4 linked regions of the Homo sapiens genome follow. The protein of the gene in region 1 purifies or fractionates together with the protein of each later gene. This does not show direct contact. Each region holds a gene or a part of one and is shown in the gene's direction. Other genes may lie near its edges.

What was found.
Region 2: the proteins of STRIP2 (region 1) and SMTNL2 purify together in Homo sapiens (co-immunoprecipitation; one large-scale study listed by IntAct). This does not show direct contact.
Region 3: the proteins of STRIP2 (region 1) and CYTH2 purify together in Homo sapiens (affinity purification with mass spectrometry; one large-scale study listed by BioGRID and IntAct). This does not show direct contact.
Region 4: the proteins of STRIP2 (region 1) and HPF1 purify together in Homo sapiens (co-immunoprecipitation; one large-scale study listed by IntAct). This does not show direct contact.

The regions. Positions count from the first base shown.
Region 1 is NC_000007.14:129,460,650-129,466,138, forward strand, and holds part of STRIP2 (striatin-interacting protein 2), read left to right. Parts: intron 1-1,938; exon of another isoform or gene 1,939-2,000; coding exon of another isoform or gene 2,001-2,081; intron 2,082-2,316; coding exon 2,317-2,391; intron 2,392-3,394; coding exon 3,395-3,492; intron 3,493-3,962; coding exon 3,963-4,089; intron 4,090-5,489. UniProt on the Homo sapiens protein: Plays a role in the regulation of cell morphology and cytoskeletal organization. Required in the control of cell shape. Calmodulin-binding scaffolding protein which is the center of the striatin-interacting phosphatase and kinase (STRIPAK) complexes.
Region 2 is NC_000017.11:4,582,527-4,588,642, forward strand, and holds the start of SMTNL2 (smoothelin-like protein 2), read left to right. Parts: upstream 1-2,002; 5' UTR 2,003-2,079; coding exon 2,080-2,478; intron 2,479-6,116.
Region 3 is NC_000019.10:48,474,755-48,480,243, forward strand, and holds part of CYTH2 (cytohesin-2), read left to right. Parts: intron 1-83; coding exon 84-195; intron 196-2,962; coding exon of another isoform or gene 2,963-2,965; intron 2,966-3,314; coding exon 3,315-3,391; intron 3,392-3,520; coding exon 3,521-3,592; intron 3,593-3,683; coding exon 3,684-3,838; intron 3,839-4,368; coding exon 4,369-4,456; 3' UTR 4,457-5,489. UniProt on the Homo sapiens protein: Acts as a guanine-nucleotide exchange factor (GEF). Promotes guanine-nucleotide exchange on ARF1, ARF3 and ARF6. Activates ARF factors through replacement of GDP with GTP.
Region 4 is NC_000004.12:169,743,662-169,749,150, reverse strand, and holds part of HPF1 (histone PARylation factor 1), read left to right. Parts: intron 1-308; coding exon 309-407; intron 408-5,489. UniProt on the Homo sapiens protein: Cofactor for serine ADP-ribosylation that confers serine specificity on PARP1 and PARP2 and plays a key role in DNA damage response.

The DNA.
Region 1 (5,489 bases):
GTTGGAGTAGGTAGACCTCTGAGAAGGTGACATTTAAGCCAAGATCTGAGGGACAGGGATCCAGCCATAGGAGCATCAGAGGAAAGAGCATTCCAAACAGAGAGAACAGCCTTAGCAAGGGGAAAGCAGGCTTAAGAGTGTCAGAGGTAGTGAAGGAAGGCTGTTGTGGCTAGAGCACAGGGCCGAGGGCTGGGATCCTAGAGATGGAGTCAGAGAGGTGGCCTGAGGCCACTTTGCCGAGGACCTGTAAGCAAAGGTAGAGAGCTTGAAGTTGACTCGCAGTCAAAGGGAAGGCAGCCTTTGGAGATTTGAAGCAGGGGAGTGATATGATCTGATTTATGTTTCTAAAAACATTAGCTTCTGTGTAAAGATTGGACCAGAAAAGCATAGACGCACTCTACGGAGATTAGTTAGAAAACCCTTGAAATAGTCAAGGTGAGAGATGATGCCGACCTGGATTTGGAGATGTAGCTGACAAGACTTGCAGTGCATTTGGATGTGGATAGAGAGGCAAAGAAAGGAATCAAGAATAAGTACCATTTGCCAGGATGTGGGGGGAATATCAAGAGTTCTGTTTTGGTCATACTAAGTTTTAGATGCCCATTAGATACCCATGTGGAGCTGCAGGCAATTGGAAATAAAGTCTAGAATTCTACAGAGAGGGCTGACTTTGAGAAATAAATTCGGGAGTTGTTTGTAACACTTATAGGCAGTGTTAAAGGCCGTAGAACTGGCTGAGATAACCCAGGGAGGGAGTAGAGACAAAGAAGAGAATGGAAGGCAGGACAAAGCCCTGGGGCACACCAGTATGTTGAGGGGGGGATGTGTCAGGAAAGGAGCCAGAAGAATATGAAAGACAGTGAAGTGGCTGGAAATCCAGGAGATTATGATATCATCATAAAAGCTAAGAAAGTCTTTCAAGAAAAAAGGAGTGATCTGCTGGGTAAAATGCTACTAATAAGTGGCATTATGGTAAGAACCAAGGTGCCCATTGGATTTGGCAACATGAAGATAGTGACCTTGATAAGAACAACTCTAAGTGAAGTAGTGGGACTGAAAGCCTAATTGGAGTGTATTGAAGGGAATGTCAAAAAAGGAGGTAGATGATATAAAAGTTTTGTGAAGAGGAGAGAAAGTGGATGGTAGCTGAAGGAAAATGTGAGGTCAAGGGGAGGATGTTTTATAGCTGAGAGATACTAGAGCATTTTTTGTTTCCTAAAATAAGTGATCCAAGAGAGGGGATAATTGCAGGACTGAGGCATTCAACAAAGCAAATGGGTGTGGGATCCTGAGCACAAGTAGGAGACTGGCCTTTGTTAGAAGCACAGGCGGTTCATCCTTCATGTCAAGAAGGAAGGAAGAAGACTCTTGGTAGATTTGGTGTTGAGAAGATGAGTGTGTGCCTGTCTGATTGCTTCTGTTTTCTCCATGAAGCGTGAGGCAGGGTCAGCAACTGTTTAGGGATGGTGGGCAAAGGAGTTGGTTTGAGGAGAGAGAAGATGGTATGAAATCAGCCTTTTGGAGAGCAGGAAGGCAAACATGCCAGGATTGCCAGGCTCTGTTGAATGTCCATTTAGGACTTACGTCCATTTAAGCAGCAGATTAGTTGTGTGGGACAGAGGGAGGCGGGTTATTCTTCCCTGCCTCAGGGTCTCATGGCAGTGGCCCCTTGCCCTGTAATAGAGGGACCTTGTAGGAGGAAGGGAACTGCATTGGTCAAAGATGACAGTGGCCTGAGCAGCTTATTGGGTCCCTGAGACCCCAGCCTCCCCACTCTGATAAAAGGCTTAGTTAATGTCATCAACAGGACAGAGATAGTTGTATATGAGGGAGCTGGTCAGAAAGGAGAAAGTGATGTAGGGGCTAATGGAGAGGGGAAGAAAATCATTTCCATCCACTTAAAAGCTTCTTTGCTAATATTCCTTCCTGTTTCTCCAGTCCATAGGTTACCCAACTTCCTTTTAAACCCACACTATTGAGCCACCTACCTCTCCTTCCAGGCTTACAGAACGTTCTAGAGTTTTCAGCCTCAGATCCACACCATAGGAAGTGCTTCTGTAGCATCTGTTCCAGTATCCCAGGTACTGAAAGGTCATCCAGGCCAACCTGATGGTCCTATTAAAGAGAAAACTAGGACTCAGAAAAGGAATGTGACTTAACCAAGGTCACACAGTGAGTCATTAACACAGCTAGGGTAGAAACCTAGATCTGACTCCCAGCTTAGTGCTCTTTTCAGGTCACCCCTCACAACCAAGAAAAAAAAGCCTTTGGTCACCTGGAAAGTGGCATTGCCAAACCATGTATTTCTTGCCATAGGGGGAAGAGGTGGTACCAGAGACGCCATGTGAAATCCTCTACCAGGGAATGCTGTACAGCCTTCCGCAGTATATGGTAAGGAGATGGCTAGGCCAGAGCTGCCCTTCTCTGCTGCAAGGAACAGACAGCTAAAAACCATTTCAAGTGGACCTGTCCAACACTTGAGCTTGTTTCCTGAGCCTTTGCCCCTTTGGCAAGGCATTCTCTGACACATGCAAATTCTGAGCTTTCCTCAGTGCTCCTCTGATGGTGCTGTTCTCCCTAGTCCTTCTTTGGGAAGGGTGGGGAATAAGTTGGGGTCTCTACAGGATACACTGGGGACCCTCCTCCGAGATAAGTACTGTAGTCCCTCTGAGATCTGCTGTGGTCTGTCATGTCCTAGATAGCCTCAGGCTGGGAGTGGGGAAGATGCCAATGGTTCAGGTTAGAGGAAAGAAAAGAGTGGGAGAAGTTGGGTTTATGCCGCCCACCTTATTTCTACACACTGTCCCTCCCACTCTGTTCCTTCCATCTTCCCCTTTGAAAAGAACAGTCTTTTTTTTTTTTTTGAAGTGGAGTCTCACTCTGTCGCCCAGGCTGGAGTGCAGTGGCACGATCTTGGCCCACTGCAACCTCCACCTCCCAGGTTCAAGTGATTCTCCTGCCTCAGCCTCCCGAATAGCTGGGATTACAGGCACATGCCACCACGCCAGCTAGTTTTTGTATTTTTAGTAGAGATGGAGTTTTACCATGTTGGCCAGGCTGATCTTGAACTTCCAACCTCAAGTGATCTGCCTGTCTCGGCCTCCAAAAGTGCTGGGATTACAGACATCAGCCACCATGCCAGGCCCTGGAAAGAACAGTCTTGAAGCATAACAGCCAATGCACTCCCTCTGGCTTTCTCCCTAGCCTCACAGGCAGGCCTGTCAGGACTGGGCACCTGTTTGCTTTTCTGGATGCTGGGGAGATATGGTCATTGAGGGAAGAACTTACAGAATGGCTTTAAAACACTTTTTATAGGGCGGTTAGGGTGTGGAAGAATCACTTCCTTGCTGAGTGGGTTTGACAGTGGTAAATTTCTTTATTTTCTACTTCTCAGATCGCTCTGCTTAAGATTCTGCTGGCTGCAGCTCCCACCTCTAAGGCTAAGACAGACTCTATCAATATCCTGGCAGATGTCCTACCTGAGGAGATGCCGTGAGTGCTTCAACGGGGGCAGCTGCTGGATACTAGCTGTCTTATCTGCAGGCTCTCTCTAGTCCCCACTCACCTTGTTAACACTTACAGAGATTGTCTCCAAAGAGATCTCCCCGTCTCTGCCCACCAGTACCCCCTTTCCCGTACAGGGCTTTCTGCTTGGCTCTTTTTAGCTCAGAACTCTGGATCTGGAGGGTGACACCAGTGCCAGCGACTGGCTGCCCAGGTATTTGGGTGAACATTGCCAAGGGATGAGCTTGCCAAAAGAGAGACGGAAACAAAGAGATCAGTGGAGCATTTCTTCAGATAGGCTCATAAGTGGGAACTCTGGAGGTTTCCCTGGCACAGAAGTTCAAGTTTCCCAAGTTCTGGCTCTCTTGTGTATATTGTATCAGACCCAAATACCTGGATCCCTACAGGGCTCCCTTTAAGGCCACTCTCTGCACTAATACCTTCTCTCCCCATTGTAGCATCACTGTTCTCCAGAGCATGAAGCTGGGCATCGATGTGAACAGGCACAAGGAGATTATTGTAAAGAGTATCTCTACCCTGCTTCTGCTACTCCTCAAACACTTCAAACTCAACCATATCTACCAGGTGAGCAGCTAGGAGCACTTCTCCACAGGTCTTGGGTGTTTGCCAGGCCCTATCTCTCAAAGGAAGGATGCAAAGTCCCTTTTAATCCTGATGAGCATCTTTCAGCCTTTTCTTTGTCCTCTCTCAGGGAATCCAGCCACCCATTGCATGAGCTTGAGGTAGGGTTATGGAGTGGGAACTGTCCTAGAAAGGTGCAGATGTCTGTGTCCCTTGTAAGTTATCCCAGAGTTGTGGGTAGGAATCTCTAGCTTCTCAGGAATATGCCCAGCCAGTTTTTAAACAATGCAAGAGAGAATGTAAGCATTTCACAAAAATGGGGGGGTGGGGGGAGTATGTTGACCGTAGTTTTCTATATGTGAAGCACTTTTCCAACATTTGAGATATAATTCTGAGAATAGGGCACAGTTCTGGCTCTTCAGGGCCTTGAAACCTTATAAAGGATACAGATATATAAGTAGCCAATTATAGAGAGATAAGTGCACTGATACTGATAAGCACTGGTTGCTATGGAAACATCTAATCCAGCTTGAGGTGGAGAAGAAATGACTCCTAACCTGAGTCCTAAAAAAACAGATGTTAGCCAGGATATGGGAATTGTTAGGGAAGGAGGACAGGAGGCATTTCAAGCAGAAAAGCTAATATGCAAAAGTCCAGAGGGGGAAGAGAGAGAGCAAAGTACCTTTAAAAACCGTAATTAAATGTTGCTGGAGTTCTGCCTGGGGCGGGGAAAGATGGGCATGGTCTGGTGACACAGGAAGCTGGAGGAATCGGCAAGGAGCAAATCATAATCTATATGCTAACACACAATTACTGGGCACCTATCCTGTGCCCAGCACCCTGTTAAGTTTGTCTAGGCCCTCATTTAATTATCTCCACCCTATGAAGTAGTCTTATTTAATACCTCTTTTATACATGATGAAATCGAAGCTAAGAAAAATTAAGAAGCTGCTTTCCCGTAAAACATTGTTTGCCATGCTAAGGAGTTTGGACTTGGTTTCATGGGCATTGCCAAGATATAGGGACAAGATGGGGACAGCAAATGGATGCTCCTGTCTGTGAGGAGACCACAGGGAAAAAAGGAATGCTTCTCATTTTTGCCCAGAGGCTCTACCCCATTTTCCTCCTAAGAAGTCAGAATCAAGCTTGCTGGTAGAAGAGCAGGTCCTCAGAGTACAGAGAGGCTTCTGTAGGGTCTATGTCCATGGCCCTATCAACCAGGGTATTTTTCCACTTTCATACATTCGAAGACATCTTTGGGTATGTTTCATTGCCCTGAGTGCTCCCACTTTTGCCAGTGTTTGCTGAGCAGCAGCAGGGCTGGGAGGAGTAGTGGTAGGTAGGAGATAGTGTTTCTAGTGGAAAGAGAACAGAGAACTGTAGATGTGTGTTTACTTCTGCTT
Region 2 (6,116 bases), on another chromosome or scaffold:
CACCCCAGAATCACTCTCTTCCTCATGCTCCTGGCTCTTCTCTCCTCTCCTGGGTGCATCTCCAGCTACTGACTCGGAGATCTGACTGCTGAGAAAAAGGAGCCAAGGGGGATGGTCTTGTACCATCTGCCTTCCCAGAACCCACAGTGAGCCCCCATCTCTGCCCTTGACAGAGTCCCGCCTTCGGCCCCAGAAGCAGCCATGCCCCGTCCCCGAGAAGTTCCTCCTAGAGATTCCCATGTGGCTCAGGAGAGACCAGATAACTAGCCTGAGGCTGGAGAGTGTGGATGGATCCCAGGCAGCCACAGGCTCTACGATCTGTCACCTCCTCCTCCCTGCCAGGCTTCCCACCAATGGCCCAGCCAGCCTGCCTTCTCCCGGAGGATGGAGAGAAGCCTAGAGACCAGCCTGTCCAGTCCCTCTCAAGGCTTCTCCACACGGTCCTTCCTTGGATCTTAGAAGGGAAGGGACTGGGCTTCTGTGGCTGAGACCAGGGTTTTTGAACTCCAGGTTCTTGTGCTGAGACCTGGAGGGGCTTTGAGTGCTGTCTGCGGCAAGAGCAGCAGCAGCGTCTCTGGAGGCTGCTACTAAAGATTCCACCTGGAGAAAGCATTCAGGGAGCAGTTTGGCTCACCCTGTCCAGATGGCTACCTGGAATGCACACACATGCTCACACATATATGCAGCATGCACACCTTTTGGCATTTGCCTTTTTCATGAAATAATTGCTGGAAGGCTCCTTGGATTAGGTAACCCAGCGTTCCTTCCTGTCCCCTTGGGGCTGGGGGCGGGGGAGAGAACCAGCATTTAGCATCTGTCAGGCTGCTCCAGTTCCTTTGGGGCAATGATGGCCAGTCCAGGAGGGTTTGTGGGCTCCAAACAACCTTGGGAGCAGAACATGATATGAACAAGCCTTTCAGACTTCTCCTTCCTGCAGGTCAGCTGGCTATGCATGCCCAGCCTCTGGGCCTCTTTCAGGCAGGCCAGGCTTGGGAAAAAGAAGGCCAATTAGGAAAGGTTTTTTGCACAAAGGAGGATATGTTCTCATTTTTATTTTAAATCAGCTTTATGATATAGCGAAAACTTAGAGTTAGCTTTGCCCATCATCCCATCGTCCTAAAGCAACACCTGTTTCCCTTCTTCCCTTTTCTGGTGATGGTTTGGGGTGTGCATTTGGAAGGGGGAACTATCTGGGTTCAGCCATAAAGAGCATTGAGAAGGAATAGGGGTAAGACCCCTGGCCTACGGGTAGAGGCCAGTGACTGAGACTCTCATTGCGGGAGGGGGCGATTAGTCGCAAAGCCGCCCATTCCAGGATTTGGAGATGCAGCTCCAGCACACCCTTCTTTCTCTGTCTGCCCTTAGCCTCTCCAGGATCTCCTAACGGAGGCCCCTTGGTGGGTCGGGAGCCTCTACCGACCACTAGTGGGAAGGGCACGAAGATCTTGCTATACAGAGTAGGACTGGGAGGGGACAGCGCGTAGTCGCAGAGTCAGGGAGGGGACCTCACCACCTGTCTCCTCCCTGAGGTCTTAGAACAGATACAAGAAATTCCAGGCGAAGGTCCCACAGGTGAGCGTGTGCCTGCGAGAGCCGTGGCCGCTGCATAGGGAGGGCCCCGCGGAGTGGGGCGGCAGCTGTGGGAGCTGTAGGTGTCCCCATTAGCCCGGGAGTCTCCGCCCCCGGAGGAACCTGGGCCTTGCGGGTGAGAGTCCCGAGCGAACGCGTCAGCCCGGGTGTGCTCTCTACGGTCCAGGGGGGCCAGGGCCTTCTTCGGGTGGGCCCGCCGCCCCTCCCGCAGGCCGCACGCCGCTCCTCCGGGGTCGCAGGGCTCAGTTAAGAGCCGGGGAGGGGAGAGGCTGGGCGAGCTCTCCCTCCGCACCGTCCCGCTGGGCTCCAGGGCAGGGGGGTGTCCCGGAGTCGTCCCCGGCTCCGCCCCCGAGGCCCCGCCCCGCGCCCGCCTCCCCGGCAGCCCCTCGAGCGAAGCCAGCCACGGACGGCCAGTCGCGGCCCGGAGCTGCGGAGCTCGGATCTTCTCCCCCGTCTGGCCCGCTCTCGACCCGCGCGCTCTGCTGGGCCATGGAGCCGGCCCCCGACGCCCAGGAGGCGCGCACTGTGCGCGAGGCGCTGGGCCGCTACGAGGCGGCGCTGGAGGGTGCGGTGCGCGCGCTGCACGAGGACATGCGGGGGCTGCAGCGCGGCGTGGAGCGGCGAGTGGCAGAGGCGATGCGCCTGGCCGGCCCCCTGGCGCGCACGGTGGCCGACCTGCAGCGGGACAACCAGCGGCTGCAGGCGCAGCTCGAGCGCCTGACGCGCCAGGTGGAGGCGCTGGGCTTGGCCAGCGGGATGTCCCCGGTGCCCGGCACTCCCGGCACGCCCAGCCCCCCGCCCGCGCCCGGGGTTCCCGACCGCGCGCCCCGCCTGGGCAGCGCACGCTTCGCCAGCCACGCCACCTTCTCGCTGTCCGGCCGCGGCCAGGTGAGCCCGGGGGAGCGCGTGCGCTGGCGCCAGGGAGTGGGGCTCCGAACCGGGTGCCGCCCCTTCGCCCCGACTGCCTGCCTCTGCTCGCGTCTGCGGGGTTGGGGCCTTCACCGGCCGCTCGGACTAGGTGATGGGGGTCCTGCCGCCCCTCCGGAGTTGGAGAGGGCGGGGGGAGGACCGCTGAGCCTGCCAGCTGCACCTGTCTTGGTCCTCCGCCCTGTTTTAGAGCCAGGCTCTGTTTGCTCAGAGTCCTGTCTCCCTCTCTCCTCTGTCCCATGACATCAACGGCTTGGGCGCCGAAGTCCGGCCCCTGACTGTTCAGCACTGCCTGGAGCCACGCGGGGCATGTTGGAATGGTCGACACCCCTGCCTGACCCCCACCCTCCATTCACGCTCCCCTGCGTTGCCGCTTCACTGAGGCCTGACGGCTCTGGTTATTGATTAACTCAGATTGAGAACTCAGGCCCCTGGATGGGTGGGGAGGGGGGTCGAGGGGGACGCGATCAGCAGCGGCTTTTGGGAACTCTCCATCGCAGGGGGTAAATCCCTTACCGTGAAGGGAGAGAGGTGGAAACCCGCCTTGAGCCGTGTCTAGATTCCTCGGGTCAGTGACTAGCCAGAGGCCCACACCACGTGGGGATAGGGCGGAGGCCGACGTGGACCAGTCACTACCTTGCGCATGGGCCACCCAGAGCAGTTAGAATGTGTCCATGGTGTGTGCAGTGGCCCTTGGGTGGGATTTTCCATCCTGATCAGGCATGTGCTCTCGGGTTGGGTTCCCAGGATCTGGGGCTGTGTAGCCTGCACCTGCTCCCTCCTTGGTGCAATCCCTGGGGCTCTCAGATTTCCCGCTGTGGGCTGGGCTGGACCCTAGGGGGCCTGGAGGAGGGTATCAGATTGGGCCTTCCCCCTGGAGGTCCCATCCAGGGTGGGAGATGGCCCCAGACCAAGTTTGGGCAGCCAGAGATGTTTTGCTCCAAACACAGTAGTTAGCCCCTTCTCAGTGGGTATCTCAGCAAGGCTTTGTGCTGGGGGCCTGGGGCTTGCTGCTACTGGTGCAGATGAGGGTGGGGTGGGGGCTGTGCAGGAAGCCTCAGAAAGGCTGAAAGTACTCACTGGTGAGTGCAGCCTCGAGGTATGCGAGTGGAGTGGGCAGTGGCGAATGCCCCTAGTGTGCTGGGCAGAGGAGTTGGGCTTTGCCCGGCCTGTAAGAAGTTCTTAAACATGTCATGGTAGCAGAACCCGGGAGTGTCCCAGTGCTCCGTGTGAAATGTCTGGAAATGTGGATACACTTAAGTCTGTCTTATGAACATGACACTCTACGTGACCATGGTCTAAAATCACCACTGTGAGCTCACACGTGCCTCATCAACTGTGTCATCGGTTGTTTCTGAGGTTTTATTTGAACATGCATTTGCTATTTGTCTGCTCATAGCAGCAGCTGTCCAAATTAAAAAAAAAAATGTCAGGTTCACATATACATGTAGATGTGTGTGTACACACAAAGAGAGAGAGAGAGAGAGAGAGAGAGAGGGAATTCTCTCCAGTCGTGATTTTTGTCAATGGAGATTAGCCATTGTTCACTGGCACCAAGCTAGTCCACTAGGTTAGGAGTTGGTGGATGAAGCTCAGGATGAGGGTCTTCTTTGTGTCTGGCAAGCCCTCTTCGGGGTGGATGGAAGGTGGAGGGTGGCTGGAGGTGGGTAACTTGATTGTGATGGTCCAAGGAGAAAGGAAAGGTCTGAGCTGGGCCGTGGGCCTTGGTGTGTAGAGGGGCTGCCTTGGACAGGGTTTCAGAGGGGGAATGAGCAGATGGGGTAGTCTCAGAGGGGAGCTCTGACTTGGGGGACTGCTGGGTCACAGATCTGGGGTGAGATGCTGGGTTCCACCCGGGTCGTGCTGAACATGAGGGGACTATGGGAACTCCAGGTGAAGCTGTCCCAGAGCAGGTGGATTCATGGATCTGGTGCTCCACACAGTGAGCAAGCCTGGAGATTAGGGAGCTCTCTGGGCAGAAGCAAAGAGTCTGAAGGAATTAAAAACCAGACCGGGGAACTGCCAGGGAGTGAGGAGGACCTGAGTGCACTCTCAGCAAACCAGAGAAGGAGCCCTCCTGGAAGAAGAGGCTGGGGTCAGTGAAGATGCGTCGGCCTGTTGGGGAGTGAAGATGGAGACCCAGGCACCCAGGGGCATGAGCAGCAAGGGTAGCTGAGCACTGTGGGTGGAACATGGCTATGGTCCCCAGTTGGGTTAGAGGCTCTGCACCCCTTGAGCCCTGGCTCCCGGGGCCTGAGGCAGCTGCCGCTGGGCTGACCCCCGAAGCACCAATCCCCATCTCTCTTGCTGTCCTCCGTCTCAGGAGCATTGTCACAGCCTCCAGACCAGTGTCCAGCATTGAGAGGAGGGACTGTGTGGAGCCATCCCCATGTGCTGGCTCGTGTCCTGTGACCAGCACGATGTGATCAAGAGCTTGGTCACACTCAAGGAGCCGGGGCTCAGGGTGAGACTGGAGTGTGGACCATGGACATAGAGTCACAGCCCCACACCAGGCTGCTGGGTGTCTGACCTCTCAGACTTTGTGTCTGTGTAGTGGGGGTCTGGGTGGGACAATCTCATCCCATCCACATGAGCCAGGGATGGCTGTACTACCTGGCATTGTAGAGGTTGGTGTCACACTACCCCTCTGTAACAAGCAATGACATTTAGAGACCCAGTTCCTTTCAAACTGGGGACTGAAGGATTGGAGGTAGATTGTCTCCAATATATAAATGTCCCCTGAACTCAATACAGGAAGGGTTGATCAAGTAATCCTGTCTGGCTGGGAGCAGGGAGCTGAGAGCCAGCTTGGGGCCGGGGGTGGATGGTGGCAGCTTGAGGCCAGGCCCAGGCCCCAGCAGGTTGGGCCAGAGCTGTGGCCTGGAAATGTCATCCTCAGCTGAGCTGGAGCCACTGGGTCCCTATGCCCGAGGCAGCGGAGGCCCCAGGAACAGCTGCCAGGAGCCCCATGTCAGAGGCCCGACCATGAAAGAAGCCAGACTCGCCTTATCTGCCTTCCTTTCCCAGACACACTGTGCGATAAGAGAGTTAAATGCTTTAGGGAGAAGTTTGAATTAAGTCCTTTCAAACGGTGTTGTGAGTGGAGGAGGGCCGGGTCAGCAGTGTGAACTGTCTTAGGATGGGGCTCTGGCCCTGCGTGGGTCTCGTCCCCATGGATGGGCCCGTGCAGATCAGGCAGCACCCAGAAGGCCTGAAATATTCTTCCTTCCCCTACAAAAATGTCTAAAAGCTTTTCCAATAAGAAGGTCCCTGAAATCAGACTTACCTCATCACCCTTCCGCCTTTCCCGTGAGTGCCTCAGGCCTGGGCTCCCTCATGGGGCACCTCCCCTTTCTCAAAACAAAGCCGAGCTGGGGAATCTTGGGGGGTACCAGGCCAGCTCAACAGGACCTGTCCCCAGCCCCAGGGCTCTCCAGCGATTTCTGCCCCGGTCCCAGCATACCGAGGCCCCTCCCTGGTTTCCTTCCGCATGACGGCGACAGGCTGCCCCCATCAAAGGAGAGCAGTAACCCACTGGGGACTCTGCGGGGACAGCTCGTTCCAGCCCAGCCCTTTGGTTGAAGACCTCTGAGTTCTGT
Region 3 (5,489 bases), on another chromosome or scaffold:
CCCTGGTCTCGCTGCCCCCCACCCTGAGTAACCCTGGGGGGCCCCAGGGGGCTCGAATGGCTAATGCAGCCTTTACTCCTCAGAACCTGTACGACAGCATCCGAAATGAGCCCTTCAAGATTCCTGAGGATGACGGGAATGACCTGACCCACACCTTCTTCAACCCGGACCGGGAGGGCTGGCTCCTGAAGCTGGGTACGTGCCCTCCCGACCCCGCTGGTCCCTCCGCAGGAGGACATTTGTGGGCCTGGGCCCTGGACTCAGCTTCCGCACACACCTGCTGCCTGAACTGAGGCAAATGATTCGACCTCTCTGAACCTCAGTTTTCCACACCCAAAAAATGGGGCTGAAAATAAAATCAGGCCTGTGTGCTGGGCCTGGCCTGTAGTAAGTACTTCCCAACCCCTTCTCTTGACCCACAAATGTTGATGGAGCCCTTCTGTGCCAGGCCCTGAGCTGGGCTGAGGAGGCAGTGAGAGGCAGCTGACATTGTCCTTTCGTGGGAGAAGAGTTCACTCAGGCTTCTTTCCACTGCGTTAACCCAGCCCGAGGGAGCCAAACCCCTGGAATCTATTCCCCTTGGCAAGAACTCCCAGGGTTCCAGGCAGGACTGACCCCGCACTCCGAGGCATCAGGCCCAGAGCACTTGGCTGATCCAGGTGCCATCCTTCCCGAAACACCACCCACAGGCAGAAAAGAGCCAAACAGGCCAGGAAACCTGTCCCAGATTCTGGCTTCCAGCTGTGGAGGGAATAGCCAGGGCTGGTGCAGATGAGTCGGGAAACCCAGCAGAGATGGAGGGGGGAGTCTTCGTCATAACACGTGGCACTGGCACATTCAAGGTCGGTTAGCATGGATCAGACAGGATCGTAGCATGATGAGGGGTTAGCACAAGGACTAGAGTGGTTCTCAGCCCTGGCTGTACATGAGATTTGCCTGGGCAACTCGAAAACTCCGGTGGCTGGGCCATAGACTCCTGAAGTCAGGCTCTCAGGAGCAGAAGGGCCATCAGTCATCGTTTAAGCTCCTCGGGTGCTCCCAATGCATAGTCAAGGTTGAGAGCTACTGGCCTGGAGCCGTGCCTGGTAACAGTAGGTGCCACCTGCGTGTTAGATGTGGTTTATAATGGAGACACGGTGCACAGCTGCTCCAGAGAGACACATCTGGGCAGTTACAGTCCAGCACAGCAGTGGAGGCTTCCCGCGGCAGCAGGAGAGCCCACAGGAAGCTTTCAGCTCAGTGAAGGGAGTCAAGGTCAGGCTTCTTGGAAGGAGGTTGGACAGGGCAGCTTTGGCCTCTGAGTCTTGGGGGCCTCCCCATGTGGAACTGTGCTCTTAAACCAGGGCATCACCACCTCAACAGATGCCAGGGTTTCCTGGTAAATGTAAAATACACAAGTCAGGCAGGGCACAGGGGCCCACCCCTGTAATTTCAGCACTTTGGGAGGACAAGGCAGGAGGATTGTTAGAGGTCAGGAGTTTGAGACCAACCTGGGCAATATAATGATACCCCCCATCTCTACAAAAAATAAAAAAATTAGCCAGGCATGGTGATGTGGGAGGATTGTTTGAGCTCAAGTGGTCGAGGCTTCAGTGAGTCATGGTTGCGCCACTGCAGTCCAGCCTGGGCAACAGAGCGAGACCCCGTCTCTATAAAATAAAACATGCAAATCACTGTCCAGCCAACACCCCAGTCCAGATCCCTGCATTCGATCCAAGGGAGGCAGACTGCTGGGGGAAATTGAGAGTCCTCGAGGTGCCCCTGGCAGTGAGCGGGCCAGAAAGAGAAGCAGGAAGGCGCCAGCATCACGAGGAACTGCTTCCCTCAAAACTGCTGTCAGGCCAGGCACGGTGGCTCAGGCCTGTAATCCCAGCACTTTGGGAGGCTGAGGCAGGCAGATCACTTGAGGTCAGGAGTTTGAGACCAGCCTGGCCAACATGGTGAAACCCCGTCTCTACTAAAAATACAAAAATTAGCCGGGCGTGGTGGCAGGCACCTGTAATCCCAGCTACTTGGGAGGCTGAGGCACAAGAATTGCTTGAACCCAGGAGGTGGAGCTTGCAGTGAGCCGAGATCACACCATTGCAAATCCAGCCTGGACGACAGAGCGAGACAGTCTCAAAAAAACAAAACAAAACAAAAACTGCTCCTGTGAGCAGTAACTTTCCCATTTCCCAGAGGCTCACGCCTCAGTTTGGTTCTGAGCCCCACCTAAGGCTGCCCAGCCCCAGGGACATCTCTGACCAAAGGGCCTCTGTTCCCTTTGTGCCAGTTAGAGGGACCCCTTCCTTAAAAGATGGAAATACAGGAGTGGAGATTGGTGATGGTGGTTGCTACTCCATGCCTAATAAAAGCCATTCTTACTGTCATTGTTTAACCCTGGGCCCACAAGGAAGCCAGCAGCAGGTCATTTTGCCACAGGAAGGTGTAGGCCCGAGTGAGTCTCCAGGCTGGAGTCCAGAGAGTCCAAGAGAGTGCCCTGAGGTCACACAGCCAGTTTGTGCAGGAGCTGAGATGGGCCCTCACACCCACCTCAGACCAAGGGCTGGGGGTTTTGCCTTCTGTCCTGTGGGGGCCTCCTCCAGGGCAGAGGCACTTTTACCATGTCAAGGGAGGATGCTCCTGGCCTAGGACAGACCCTAGGGGGTAGGCTGGGGCCCTGTACCGAAGCAAGGGGTTTTCAAGGCTGCCACCCGGGGCTCATGGCCCTTGGCCTCTCTGGGAGGGAGGAGCCCCGGCCATCCCCACCCTCGTGGATGTAACTGGTTTTCTTCCCTCTCTCTCCCTCCCCTCCTCTCTGCGTCTTTCCCTCTCTCCTGTGTTTGCCTCTCTGTCCTGCCCCTGCGCACCCCTCCCTGTGCCCACCCTGTTTCTGTCGCCTGCGGCTCTTGGGGGTGCTCCATTCTCCCGCCTTCCCTTCTCCTGCACCTGGTCCTGCCTGCTTTCTCGCTGTCTGCCCCAGGAGGTAGGTACACGACCTGTCTTTGTCTCCCATCACTAGACGAGGGGAGGGGGCTGCCCTGGCGCCCTGGCGCCCTGGCCTCCTGCCCACAGGAGGAGGGGGCTGGGGGCTCAGGCTCCTGGGCTGGGACTGACAGACTCAGAAAATGTGGAGCCCCAAGCTGGGGGTGGACGATTCCTGGAGCCCCAACATGCCTGGCCCTGCTTGTCTGTCTCCCCCAACGCAGCGGCTTTGTCTAGGCCCCAGGAGCCCCACCTCTACCGCTCTTGCTCTGCTTCTCACGCCCCTCCCATCTCCCAGAGGCCCTGTCCCCCTGTTGAGCCCAGGCCCCCTCCCACCCCTTCCCTTTCAGGGGGCCGGGTGAAGACGTGGAAGCGGCGCTGGTTTATCCTCACAGACAACTGCCTCTACTACTTTGAGTACACCACGGTGAGCGTGACCCGACCCGGGCTCTGGGGTCCTGGGCGGAGTGGCTGGGAGCCTGGACTCCTGGGGCTGAGGGAGGTGGGGTGGGGTGAGGACTTGGAAGTCTGAGTTCTGTCCACCTTGCTTCTTCAGGACAAGGAGCCCCGAGGAATCATCCCCCTGGAGAATCTGAGCATCCGAGAGGTGGACGACCCCCGGAAACCGGTAAGACCCTCTCTGTACACCTTCCTGCCAGGGCGGGGCCTCCTCTGCCCAGGGCTGGTTCTTACCTGCGCCCTTCCTCTCTCGTCCCCAGAACTGCTTTGAACTTTACATCCCCAACAACAAGGGGCAGCTCATCAAAGCCTGCAAAACTGAGGCGGACGGCCGAGTGGTGGAGGGAAACCACATGGTGTACCGGATCTCGGCCCCCACGCAGGAGGAGAAGGACGAGTGGATCAAGTCCATCCAGTGAGCCTGGACTCCTGGGCCTGATGGAGGAGGGGCTGGGGCCTGGACTCCTGGGTCTGATGGAGGAGGGGCAGGGGCCTGGATGCCTGGGTCTGATGGAGGAGGGGCTGGGGCCTGGACGCCTGGGTCTGACGGAGGAGGGGCTGGGGCCTGGACTCCTGGGTCTGACGGAGGAGGGGCAGGGGCCTGGACACCTGGGTCTGACGGAGGAGGGGCCGGGGGCCTGGACCCCTGGGTCTGACGGAGGAGGGGCCGGGGGCCTGGACTCCTGGGTCTGACGGAGGAGGGGCCGGGGGCCTGGACTCCTGGGTGTGAGGGAGGAGGGGCCGGGGGCCTGGACTCCTGGGTCTGAGGGAGGAGGGGCCGGGGGCCTGGACTGCTGGGTCTGAGGGAGGAGGGGCCGGGGGCCTGGACTCCTGGGTCTGAGGGAGGAGGGGCCGGGGGTCTGAGACTCCTCCTGGGTATGAGGGAGGAGGGGCTGGAGGCCTGGACTCCTTGGCCCTCATCCTGGGACCCCTCCCCTTCTGCAGGGCGGCTGTGAGTGTGGACCCCTTCTATGAGATGCTGGCAGCGAGAAAGAAGCGGATTTCAGTCAAGAAGAAGCAGGAGCAGCCCTGACCCCCTGCCCCCAACTCCATTATTTATTACGGAGCTGCCCCGCCTGGGTGGCCGGACCCCTGGGCCTTGGGGCTGTGGATCCTGGTTCCCTGTTTGGAAAATTCACCACCTCTAGCTCCTCACTGTTCTTTGTAATTAACACGCTGTTGGTAATCTTATTAATTATTTAACCACTTGGCCTGCTGACCCCCTCATTTCTTGGGGTTGACAGAGTCGAGGTGCTCCGTGGAGCCAGCCTGTTTCCCTGGACAGGGGCCTGGACCCGCCTGTCTCTGGGTGCTGCCTGGGCTGTCCCGGTGGGTCTGTTCTGGTTTCACCCCGAGCCCAGCAGGAGTGGAGTAAAGGGAGAAGGTTAATATGGTGGGAGTCTGGAGTTGGAATTGGCCGGGGACAGAGTTTAGAATGCAGGGATTCAGGGTCAAGGTCTAGCATTCATTCTAGAAGTTACTTGACAGCCATCAGCCAGTTACGCTACAGCCATCAGCTAGTTCCCATCGTTGCTTTCATGGGGCTTGAGGTCTTTGAGGGGCAGGAGATGAAGCTGGTGAGGTTGTGAGCTGGGCCAGGGCTTTGAGGACAACCTGGAGCTGGAAGAACATGCGACCACCTCAGGGAGGGTCAGGGAAGGATGAGTGGGGAGGTGGCCCATGTCCTGCAAGGGCCTTGCTGATGGGATGTCCTGAAGGGCTGGGCAGCCTTAGATCGGGCTAAGAGGGCAGGACTGTGGGCCAGTGCCAGAGCCAGGCTTGTCTGTTCTCAAAGGATCAGCCTCCTTTGGAGGACATTTTGTGTCAAGGATAGGGCTGAGGACCTGCGTTCTGAACGTCTTTCCTGGGATTCTTGACAGCCAAAGAAATTCGAGGATCGCCTCTATGAAGGTGAAGTCTTGGCATGTGGGGTACCCCTGAATCCTGGGCTAAGGTCTGTGACCTTTTGCCCTCCAGTTGGGGTATGTGTGGTGTCCCCAAAGAACAAGGGCTCGTGGATCCCGAGCAGGGTGCGATGGCGGATTGGGAGGTCCCATGTCACTCTC
Region 4 (5,489 bases), on another chromosome or scaffold:
GACAAAATTTTTCAGCTTGCAAAATGGGACTGCAATATTACATTTTTCACTTAAACAATTTTTTACATCTACGTTGTTGCTTTCTAAAATGAATGTGAATGCCATCTTTTATGACTGCAACTTGCCTTTTCCATTACAGAAATTTTTGTTTGATGTAATCGATAAATTCTGGTATGATTAAAAAAAAAAAAAGGCCTCCAAAAAGGAAAAAAAATAGGTGTAAATTGTTGTCTGTAGACCTGAAATCCCACTTGCCTGATAATATAAATTATGGGCAGCTAAATTTTTAATGTCTTTTGCTTACACAGGGATTCTCCTGATGAATTTCCTGTATATGTTGGTATAAATGAAGCAAAGAAAAATTGTATAATTGTTCCAAATGGAGATAATGTATTTGCTGCAGTCAAGTAAGAATATTTTAATTTATATTTGTTTACAATGTTTATACTACATTAGTCCATTACAAAGGGGGTTTGAGGGGCTGGGCACAGTGGCTTACACCTGTAATTCCAGCACTTTGGGAGGCCGAGGTGGGCAGATCGCTTAGGTCAGGGGTTCGAGACCAGCCTGGACAACATGGGTATACCCCATCTCTACTAAAAATACAAAAATTAGCTGGAGGCATGGTGGCACACACCTGTAATCCCAGCTACTCAGGAGGCTGAGTCAGGAGAATTGCTTGAACACAGGAGGCGGAGGTTGCAGTGAGCCGAGATTGCGCCACTGCATTGCAGCCTGAGTGACAGAGTGAGACTCTATCTCCAAAAAAAAAAACAAAGCGGATTTGAGACAAGCCCATAATTGTAGATTTCTAGAGATAATTTCCATGACTTTTGCAGGTAGTCTTATCTATACTGTTATTTTGTGCCTCTTCACCAAAAAAATACACCTCTTATGTAACTATTTTACTTAACGAAAATAATACTTGACCTCAGGTGTTCCATGGCAACATCAACAGTTTTGTTAGACATCTGATTTTAAACACCTGTTAAGAGTTTATTTCTTATGTATGGTTCAAACAGAAAGGCTTAATAAAGTAAAAAGAGGTGGTCATTATATCCTTGGAAGGGTTGAGGGAGCAGGCTGAGCTTCCAGGAATGACAGTTGTGTGGCTCACAGTGGATTTTGTCTCTGCCACCATCAGGGAGCTGGGAATTCGAGAACTGCTGCCACAGTGAGTGGCTCTAGGACCACATTATCTTTGGTATAATCTGGGCCAGGTAAATGGATGCCCTACTCTTTGCCTCTCAGCCCCCGTGAAGCTAAGAACCAGGTGCTGGGATCTCAGCTACAGCTGCTGCAGAACCATCAGATGCCTCTACAGCTGTGCTCATTGATGGAGATCGTGGAAGCACAGCCTCCATGTGGTATCTCTTCTGCCTCTGAGATTTCAAAGTATTGCAGCTGCTTGGAAGAAGATAGGTCCCATGTGGAGCCTGAGCTAAAGAGTAGTATGGGAAATGCAGTGAACTTTCATGGGGAAGGGGTTGGAATAGAGGTGAGTGAGCCAGTCTGTGCTATATCAGCCACAGACATGACTTGAAGCCATTTTATTTGTCAGCAGCTGTGTAGTTTGCATTGTAATGAAGAAAGCAAACTTTATCACTTCAAATACAAGTAGATTATCTTTTCTTTGACCTCTTTTAGTACTGTCTCTTTAAAGGGCTGTTGTTCCCTGTGATTTGATCATACAAATTTGCAGTAAAGTGAATTCAAACTAAATCACCCTACTACAACCACTAGACTATGCTACGTACATACTGGTGTATCTACAAGGCAGCTACATTGTAGATGTCCAAAAATGTTCTTTCTTTTCTAATACCTCTCAGTTTCCTATAAAATGTTACTTGGTATTTGTAATTTATAACTTCTTTTAAACTCTTTGGATTTATCATTCAATTTAAATTGGTGCCATCTTTATTAGAAACTCTTGTTGTTTTCTTGCTTATTGTCTGTCTCTTGCACTAGCATGTTAAGTTCCACGAGGGCAGAGTATCTGCCCCATACTAGATGCTCCATAAATATTAATTCTATAAATACCTTGGCATGTAAAAACACCTAATTTTTTCAGGCTGGGCAACATAGTGAGACTGTCTCTTTTTCGAAAAACAAGCCTAACTTTTCATTTGTGTTATTAGTCATGTTTTTTTTTTTTTTTAAAAAAAGATAACATAATAGTGGTCATGTAACATAACCCAAGACTCTTCTGGTATCTTTTTTTTTTTTTAAGCTAATTGGAGAACATAGACAATGAAAAAGAAAAAAAAAATGCATGGGTGATATTTATAACTTAGGTGAAGATCAGCAAGTGAGTATTTGAGGAACTACCTCCAATAATTTATCTCAAACAGGGGTAAAAAATTACTTGAGATATAACTATTTTAGTACTTTTAAAGTATTATAACGGTTTTAGTTTTTTAGGTACTACCTCCTTAAATCAGCTAACCAGAACACTTAATTTCTTTATATATTTTAAAATTTATTTTTATGGCAGACTGAATAAGGTCTTTCAAGGCATACCTTTGATCAACACATTTTTATCTTTAGTTATTATTAAATCTTGTGTCTGCAAGATTTAATAGTAACTAAAGAAATGCCAATTTAACCAGCAAAGATTTTTTTTAAAGGTTAAAGAATGGTAATAACCAATGATGGTTAGGGTATAAGAACCCTTACTGATGTGTTAATTGGTAAAACTTTTGTAGAAAGCAGTTTGAAAAATGTTTAATGTTAACATTTGAAAAATGTTAACTTAGAAAGCATATTCTAAGATTTCTTAATAGGTGACATTGTCAGGTACTATGTGAAGTACACATTTATACCCTTAAGTTAGCAATTTCACTTCTAGCTGTTTATTAAAGGGATTTTGGACAGGTACAGAAATATGTGTATTACAGATTGTTTATCAAATGAAAAATTGGCAACATATCCAGCAATAGGGAAGATTAGGTAAATATAAACTATCCATATACTATAATACTTTGGTATTGATTTGTTGAATTTGTTATGAAGTGGGCAAATAACAATAGTGTAGAATGATTCCATTTCATACTGTCTAATGCATATGGAAGTAAACATAATTCTTAAATAACTTTGAACAACAAAGGAATGATTTTTTTTTTCCTTCTGCCTTATTTATTTTCCTAAAATAACTGGGGTAAACAGTTTTGACCTTGGGTCAGGGACCCTTAAGGTCAAAACTATTTGTGATAATAAAATGTTATTTTTGCACCAATGGCACAAAGTAAATAGTGGATAATACTGTTGTCACCTTGGCAGGAATCAAGATAGTGCCACCAGGGTAGCAGCAGTCATTGCATTATTCACAGCAGTAACATGCAAATGTATTTAAAAATGTTTGTGATGGAGCCAGGCATGGTGGCTACTCGGGATGTTGAGGTGGGAGCATTGCTCGAGCCCAGGAGTTCAAGTTCATCCTAAACGACATAGCAAGACCCTGTGCCTGAAAAATGTCAGTGTTGGAGTATACATGTATTAGATGTCTACCATTGAGTTCATCTCTTTAACATTCTGTGATGAAATAGGAAATACATAGAAAGCATTTCTCATACTGAAGTACTGTGGTTTGTCTCAAGGGAAAAAAAAGCCCTTGTATGATTGAATTTTGAGATGAACTTTTCCCCACTTTTAGAAAGAGTGACTCATTGACTGTGTGCCTGTCAAGATTCCCTCTGGTTTTCTGGCTAGAAAGCTCACCCATTTCCAGTTTCTAAGAGTCAGTTCAGTGGCAGAGCCACCAGGGACAAGTAAGACTCTTGGGGGTGCTTTGACCCTGCCTACCTGGGAGCACACTTTTCCCTTCCCTGATGACCTGGGATGGTGGCCAGGCCGTGCCCTTGCTGTCGCTGGGCAGTGTCCTTTTGGAAAGGGAGCTGCCCCAGGGTTTAGTGCAGCTGCCAACCCTGTTAGGCCCGGCCTCTCGAGGCCTCTTCCGACTTCAAGGGTCACACACCCCCAAAGATCCTCTCACCCATGGTAGTTGCTGTGCATGGTTCTGTCTGTCCGTGCACCTATGCACACACACCACCCCACCACCCTACTCTGAAATTGGCGAGTGAGTTGAGAGCCAGCTCTGTGGGGTCATCCCGCAGCCATGGTTGTGCCTGTCCTTCATGGTGGTCTTTCAGGTTATCTTGGCAACATGTACATTGCTTTTCTTTTTTTTTCTTATTGTACAGTCAGTACTATAAAATTTCTCTTTGAGTTTTATACCTTTGTAGCATTTTAGATGACATTGTGTTTGTACTTTGTTGTGTAGAGTGGAAGAATTGTGTTGAATAAACCCAAGATTGGAATGCAAAAAAAAAAAAGAGTGACTCATTGACAAACTGGTTATTTGGGTCTAGCTACTGGCAGGAATTCTCTCAAATGAACCAAAGAAAACAACTGACTATATTTTTTGTCAGTGATAAAATTCAGGGTTTCAAATAAAAATTAGATTGAGAAACTTGTAATACCACTGTGAGCGCAATAGCTTTTTTTCATAATGTTATGTAATGAATTTGATATATAAGTTTCAACACTTACATCTATATAACTTAGTAAACCACTATTTCCAAAGGGCCATTGCATGATGCCATATAACATGCATGGGTACAAATTCATTTGCGTTGAAGACATTCTAATGGATTTAAAGTCACAGCACAAAATGTTCACGTTCATGGTTATGGCTTCAGTTGCACATCGCACCTTATCTTTAAGCATCACACAGTAAAGTGTTAGAGTAGGTTTCGGCAGAGACAAAAACTTACAGAGATAGTCATAATAATGTCATATGTATGGGAAGGCAGCTACCAAGTGCCTTCAATAGTGGCAGAGGTAAAAGAGGATATTTTATGTGGGCTTTGATGGATGCCTAAGAACTTACTAGAAAGAATGGGAAGAAGGATGTTTTAGGTAAGGGAGCAGTATGTGTGTGAAAGTGTGAAAATACGTGGCACAGGGTACTTGAATGGCTATATTGCCGTGCCAGAGTGTTGAGGAAGACTGTAAAGATCGATTGATTCACATAGGACTGACATGATCAAATCTGTATTTTATGGTTGATATAAAAATACCCTCTAGACATACAGCTGGTAATAATTGAAGGTAAGATTTAGTGTAACCGTGTGCTGTAATCAGAAGTTAGATTTTGATGGCTTGGGTTTCTGTGGCATTTTAATCTACCAGTTCTACTGGTAACTCTACGGGTTTAATCTATTAGCTCTCTCAACTTGGGTAAGTTGACTATCCTCTGTGCCTTTTTTTTTTCCTGATAAGTACAATGAAGCTAAGACTAGCACCCACTATAAATGTTCTAACTCCCTAACAGTGTTGCAGGGAATACTACAAACTCTCAGATGTTGGCAGTGAATAGAAGTGAGTTTCTTCCTAGGAGTTGTTACTCCCTCAGCCTTCTTCCTGGAAGTCTGGCACACTCTTGCCGCTCTTCATTTTACTCCTGACCTTTTATATTGATGGCAAAAATC